Regions from separate parts of the Homo sapiens genome. Here region 1 is linked to region 2. The links come from fine-mapping of genetic effects on gene expression. A gene starts in region 2. The other region holds a variant in brackets. All regions are shown on one strand. Distances are from middle to middle.

The links. PIP is the estimated chance that this variant, and not a neighbour inherited with it, causes the effect. A credible set is the group of variants that fine-mapping cannot tell apart.
Region 1: its variant is the best candidate, but not a certain one, in a credible set for the expression of LINC02733 in monocytes after R848 (Quach 2016, PIP 0.55).

The regions. Positions count from the first base shown.
Region 1 is chr11:62,002,498-62,005,412 of GRCh38, reverse strand. No RefSeq gene overlaps it. Among named protein-coding and RNA genes, the nearest start is that of FTH1, 36 kb to the right of the region's middle. The variant C/T (reference allele first, on the strand shown) is at 1,245.
Region 2 is chr11:62,080,856-62,083,770 of GRCh38, reverse strand. LINC02733 (long intergenic non-protein coding RNA 2733) reads left to right here and starts at 1,449. Exons shown (of 3, transcript NR_183616.1): 1 at 1,449-2,157.

The DNA of each region.
Region 1 (2,915 bases), 78 kb after region 2:
AGTCCAGCTGCTGCCTTGGCTTTTGATCAGAATGATTACCCACAGGCCCATCCTTTCTTAGCACTGTTAGAGAACAGAGAGATGGCACTGGCTTCCAAAGTGTCCCGCGGGTGTCTTTTCTGCCTTTTTCTATCCTTCCATCCATTCCTGTGGGTTCTCGGGCAGCTGCTCATTTGAAAGAGAGGAGAGAGACATTTTTTTGTTTGTTTGTTTTGAGACGGAGTCTCGCTCTGTTGCCAGGCTGGAGTGCAGTGGCACGATCTCGGCTCACTGTAACCTCCGCTTCCCAGGTTCAAGCGATTCTCCTGCCTCAACCTCCCGAGTGGCTGGGACTACAGGCACATGCTACCACCATGCCCAGCTAATTTTTGTATTTTTAGTAGAGATAGGGTTTCACCACGTTCGCCAGGCTGGTCTCGATCTCCTGGCCTTGTGATCTGCCTGCCTTGGCCTCCCAAAGTGCTGGGATTACAGGTGTGAGCCACTGCGCCCAGCTGAGAGACATTTTTTAAGAGCAAAATCCATGCATGGCCAGGCCTCGGAATCTTTCTAAGGCCTCCTAGACTCTCAGGGGACCCACCATGGCAGTGGCACTGACATGCAGCCCAGGGTTGTGGTCCAAGGAGGGCTTATGAGCTGACTCAGAGGAAGTAAGCTTGTTCTTGGCTGCAGGGCAAGACTAGCCATGGAGGTGGGCTCTGGCCAGCTGGTCTGATATTCTTGCTGGTCCTGACTTTCATTTCCTCTGGAAATCCCGCACACTTGACCACAGAGGCTTTTGCAATATGTGTGTATCCTAATTCCCCTGGGGTTTTTCTCTTTTTGTTTTCTGAGGAGTGGGTCCACTTCAGTAAAATTACACACAAAGTTGGAGCTTTCTGTTCCAGGAAGGCAAAGGTTACAATTCTAGCAAGCCTAACACCCAAAAACACAAAACGCTGAAACCAGGAGAATGAGTTAGAAAATATGTATCCATGGCCAGGCGCAGTGGCACACGCCTGTAATCCCAGCACTTTGGGAGGCCAAGGCGGGTGGATCACGAGGTCAGGAGTTCAAGACCAGCCTGGCCAAGATGGTGAAACCCCGTCTCTACTAAAAATACAAAAAAATTATCCAGGCGTGGTGGCGCATGCCTGTAATCCCAGCTACTCCAGAGGCTGAGGCAGAGAATTGCTTAAACCTGGAGGGGCAGAGGTTGCAGTGAGCCGAGATCGTGCCACTGCACTCCAGCCTGGGCGACAGAG[C/T]GAGACTCCGTCTAAAAAAAAAAAAAAAAGAAAATTTGTACCCTGGCAGGTCACGGTGGCTCACACCTGTAATCCCAGCACTTTGGGAGGCTGAGGAGGGTGGATCACCTGAGGTCAGGAGTTCGAGACCAGCCTGGCCAACATGGTGAAACCCCGTCTCTACTAAAAATACAAAAATTAGCTGGGCGTGGTGGCAGGCACCTGTAATCACAGCTACGCAGGAGGCTGAGGCAGGAGAATAGCTTGAACCCGGAAGGTGGAGGTTGCAGTGAGCCGAAATTGCTCCACTGCACTCCAGCCTGGGCGACAAGAGCAAGACTCCATCCAAAAAAAAAAAAAAGAAGGCGAGGCGCAGTGGCTCGCGCCTGTAATCCCAGCACTTTGGGAGGCCGAGGCAGGTGGATCACCTGAGGTCAGGAGTTCGAGACCACCCTGGCCAACATGGTGAAACCCCATCTCTACTAAAAATACAAAAAATTAGCTGGGTAGGGTGGCAGGCACATGTAATCCCAGCTACTTGGGAGGCTGAGGCAAGAGAATTGCTTGATCCCGGGAAGCAGAGGTTGCAGTGAGCCAAGATCGCGCCACTGCACTCCAGCCTGTATGACAAGAGCGAGACTATCTCAAACAAAACAAAACAAAACAAAAAAAACAGAAACCTAGCTCCTTCAGCCTGTTCCCACCTGTGTCACTTACTTTTAAAGTTCTGCAAGCCATGTGGGCCCACCCACTTTTTCCAGCCTGGGGTTCCCTGGGTTCTAGCCCCATGCAGACAGAGAACTTCCGACGGACTTGTTCACAGGGGCTGGGAGTCTTCCGGTTTAAGTAAAGGATGGTGGCAGAGGTGCATCTTCTGCCCCAGAAACATCTCGGCTGAAGGAGACTCCATCTGCCTGGCCCAGCGTAGGGAGAATATCAGCCCATTGTTGGTGAAGGTGTTTCCAGGGACAGGGACAGTGGGCTGCCTCTTTCTCCAGCGATCTCCCCTCAGGGGCATATGTGAAGAGGAAAGCTGAAGAAAGAAAAGGCCAACTCGTCCTCTTGGCTCAACTTGTCTCTCCAAGTCATCTTCTTCCTCACTCCATCCAAACCCAAGTACCATCCACCCATCCAATAGATAATGACTGAACATCCCCAGGTGCCAGACACCCTTCTAGGTACTGGGATACGGCAGTGATGATGACAGTAAGGCCCAATGACTCTCAGAAAGTTCACACTATAGTCAGTGGAGGCTGGAAAGGGTCAGTATATTCCACGGAAATAGTGTTAACTACAAGAAAGCAAAACCAGTAATGGCATAGAGAGGGACTGAGTCTTGGGGAGATGAACTCCTTTGCGGAGGGGTCAGGGAAGGCTGCTAGGAGCTGACTCTCCAGCTGAGCCCTCCATTCTGAGAAGAGGCCAGCCCAGGAGAGATTAAGGGAAGAGCATCCGGGCAGAGAGAACAGCGAATATGGAAGTCCTGAGGGGCATCGAAAATGCCGGAATCTGGAGGTCCAGGGAGCACTCTGGAAAATCTCTTGGATTGTTATCCCTCTCATCTGGTTACTCGCGGGGATGCTCATGGAAGCAGGAAATCTTTCCTGTCTGCATAAAGTGTATACACATTTACATGGAGCGTTGGCCAAGCATGGTGGCTCACGCCTGTAATCTCAACACTTTGGGAGGCTG
Region 2 (2,915 bases):
GCATTCACCTTGCACCAACTACATAAATAAAATCAAGGGGATTTAAGCATCTAAATGTAAAAAGCAAATTTTTAAAATAATTTTCAAAATTAAATGACTATCTTATGACTTTGGAATACAAAAAGATATCATAAAGACCAGGCACAGTGGCTCACACCTGTAATCCCAGCACTTTGGGAGGCCAAGGCTGGAGGACTGCTTGAGCTCAGCTATTTGAGACCAGCCTGGGCAACACAAAGACCCTGTCTCTATTTTTCTATTATTTTAATGAATTTAAAAAAAAAAGTCCAGGCGCAGTGGCTCACCCCTGTAATCCCAGCACTTCGACGGGCAGATCACCTTAGTTAAGTGAGAGATGGCGAAACCCCATCTCTAGTAAAAATACAAAAAATTAGCCAGGCATGGTGGCAGGCACCTGTAATCCCAGCTACTCGGGAGGCTGAGGCAGGAGAATCGCTTGAACCTGGGAGGTGGAGGTTGCAGTGAGCAGAGATTGTGCCATTGCATTCCAGCCTGGGCAACAGTACAACCTGTGTCTCAAAAAAAAAAAAAAATATATATATATATATATAGATACACACACACACACACACATATATATACGTGCATAGTTATACGAGGAATTTTTCAGCGGTAAACGTGAATCAACTAGAAATATATGTACCAACATGAATAATTCTTAAACACAATGTTGATCAATAAAAGCAAGATATGGCCAGGTGTGGTGGCTCGTGCCTATCATCTCAGAACTTTGGGAGGCCAAGGTGGGCAGATTACTTGAGGTTGGGAGTTCAAGACCAGCCAGGGCCAACATGGTGAAACCCCATTTCTACTAAAAATACAAAAATTCGCCAGATGTGGTGGCACGCACCTGTAGTCCCAGCTACTCAGGAGGCTGAGGAAGGAGAATCGCTTGAACCTGGGAGGCAGAGGTTGCGGTAAGCCAAGATCACGCCACTGCACGCCAGCCTGGGTAACAGAGCGAGACTCCATCTCAAAAAACAAACAAACAAACAAAAAAGACCTTCAGAATGGTACAGTGTGACATCAATTTTTTAAAATTGAAACACAAATCAATACTCTGTGTGTTTATGGATACATATGTAGGTTTTACAAGTATGAAAACAAACATAGGTCTGAAAAACATAATCCTGAATTTTATTTTTACCTCCAACGAAAAAGGGAAAACATCTAAAAATTAAACCCAGTGTCTTTTGGAGGCATGATACTCTAGAGCTAAGTTGTAGATTTTTTTCGTTATTTTAAATGGTATTTTAAGATGCGCAAAAAGAAGTACAGGTGATGATACAACAGACTTAGCTGATATTTATGACTCAGCGGTACACCTAAAATATTACAGGTTTATTGGAAGCCCTAATCCGATTTTCCTTTCTCCTTGACCGGATGGATTATCCTGCCTCTGTGAAGTGTAACTTTAAAGAGAAGGCGAATGAGCTTCTAGAGAGCTACCAAGACAGTCACTACTTCATCATCAGTAAAAGCTGTTTACTTCCGATGTGTAATAAACCCACGTGACCATTTGGGGGCGCCAGAGTCCAGCACAGGCCGGCCGAGCCCGCGTTCTTCCCGGGGAATGCAACAGCTGATTCACCTGCTCCACGCTGATTAATAATCAAACTACCATTGTGTGGGGCCTATCTTCCTACTGGACCTCAAAACCCACCTACTCCACAAGTTTATCTTCACAATTATGAGCTACCTGCTTCACGTCACACTACAGCACCTAAAAGCAAATAATAAAGTTTATTCTTGAGTTAACCTGCCTCTGTGTTCAGCCAATCCCTCCTGCACGTGAGTGATGCACCTGGATGCTGCATAAGGAGAGATGGAAATACCTAAGGTGTGGTCCTTACTTCCAAGGGGCTTATAGCAGAACGAAGACTCGAAAGCAAGCACACCCACAACCACAACACAGCCGCTGGCACACACAGCAGGAAAGACACCGGGTTTAATGGAGCAGAGAAAGGGGGCGTCATCTCCAGGCACAGCTCCATGAAGAAGATGACATTGACCTGGGAGCTCTGAGCCTTCATATAATGAGTAAGCTTTCAGCTGGAAGAAATCCCAAGTGGAGAAACAGGAAGCTATAAAAGAGCAATGGTTTTGGATTCACAAAACCTGCCTGAGTGAACCTGGGTAAGTTGCTTCCCCTTCTTGATCTCAGGAAGGGTTTTGCAGAGCTGGCAGCCACAGGCACAGGTGAGCAGATGGCTTGAGCTCAGAAGTGCAAGACTAGCCTGGGCTACATGGCAAAACCTGGTCTCTACAATCTGTAGAAGTTTTCCTTTCTAGCTACAAATTAATAAATGTTAATTTGAAAATAAAAATTAGAAAATCTAAGAAAATATAAAGAAGAAAATTAAATTACACCTAGTTCTGAAGAGGCGCAGTGGCTCACGCCTGCAATCCCAGCACTTAGGGAGGCCAAAGCGGGAGGACCGATTGAGACCAGGAGTTCCAGACCAGCCTGGGTAACATAGTGAGACTCCCTCCTCTACAAAAAATTAAAAAATTAGTCAGGTGTGGTGGTATGTGCCTACAGTCCTAGCTACTGGGGAGGCTGAGGTGGGAGAATCGCTTGAGTCCAGGAGTTTGAGGTTATAATGAGCTATGATTATGCCACTGCACTCCAGCCTGGGCAACAGAGCACGATTGTGTCTCAAAAAAATATATATATATGCTTAATCTTTTCACTTAGAAATATTTTCTTCTTATTTTTTCTATCAGCTCCTCCAATTTAATGTACAAAATGAGACTATACTGAATATACCTTTTATATCCTGTTATTTAACTTAACATTATATTGTGACTACTTTCTCGAATCAATGCATATAATTTTGTCTGGTTTTGCTTTCTTTTTCATCAAAGATGTACATGCACATAATCTAAGAATC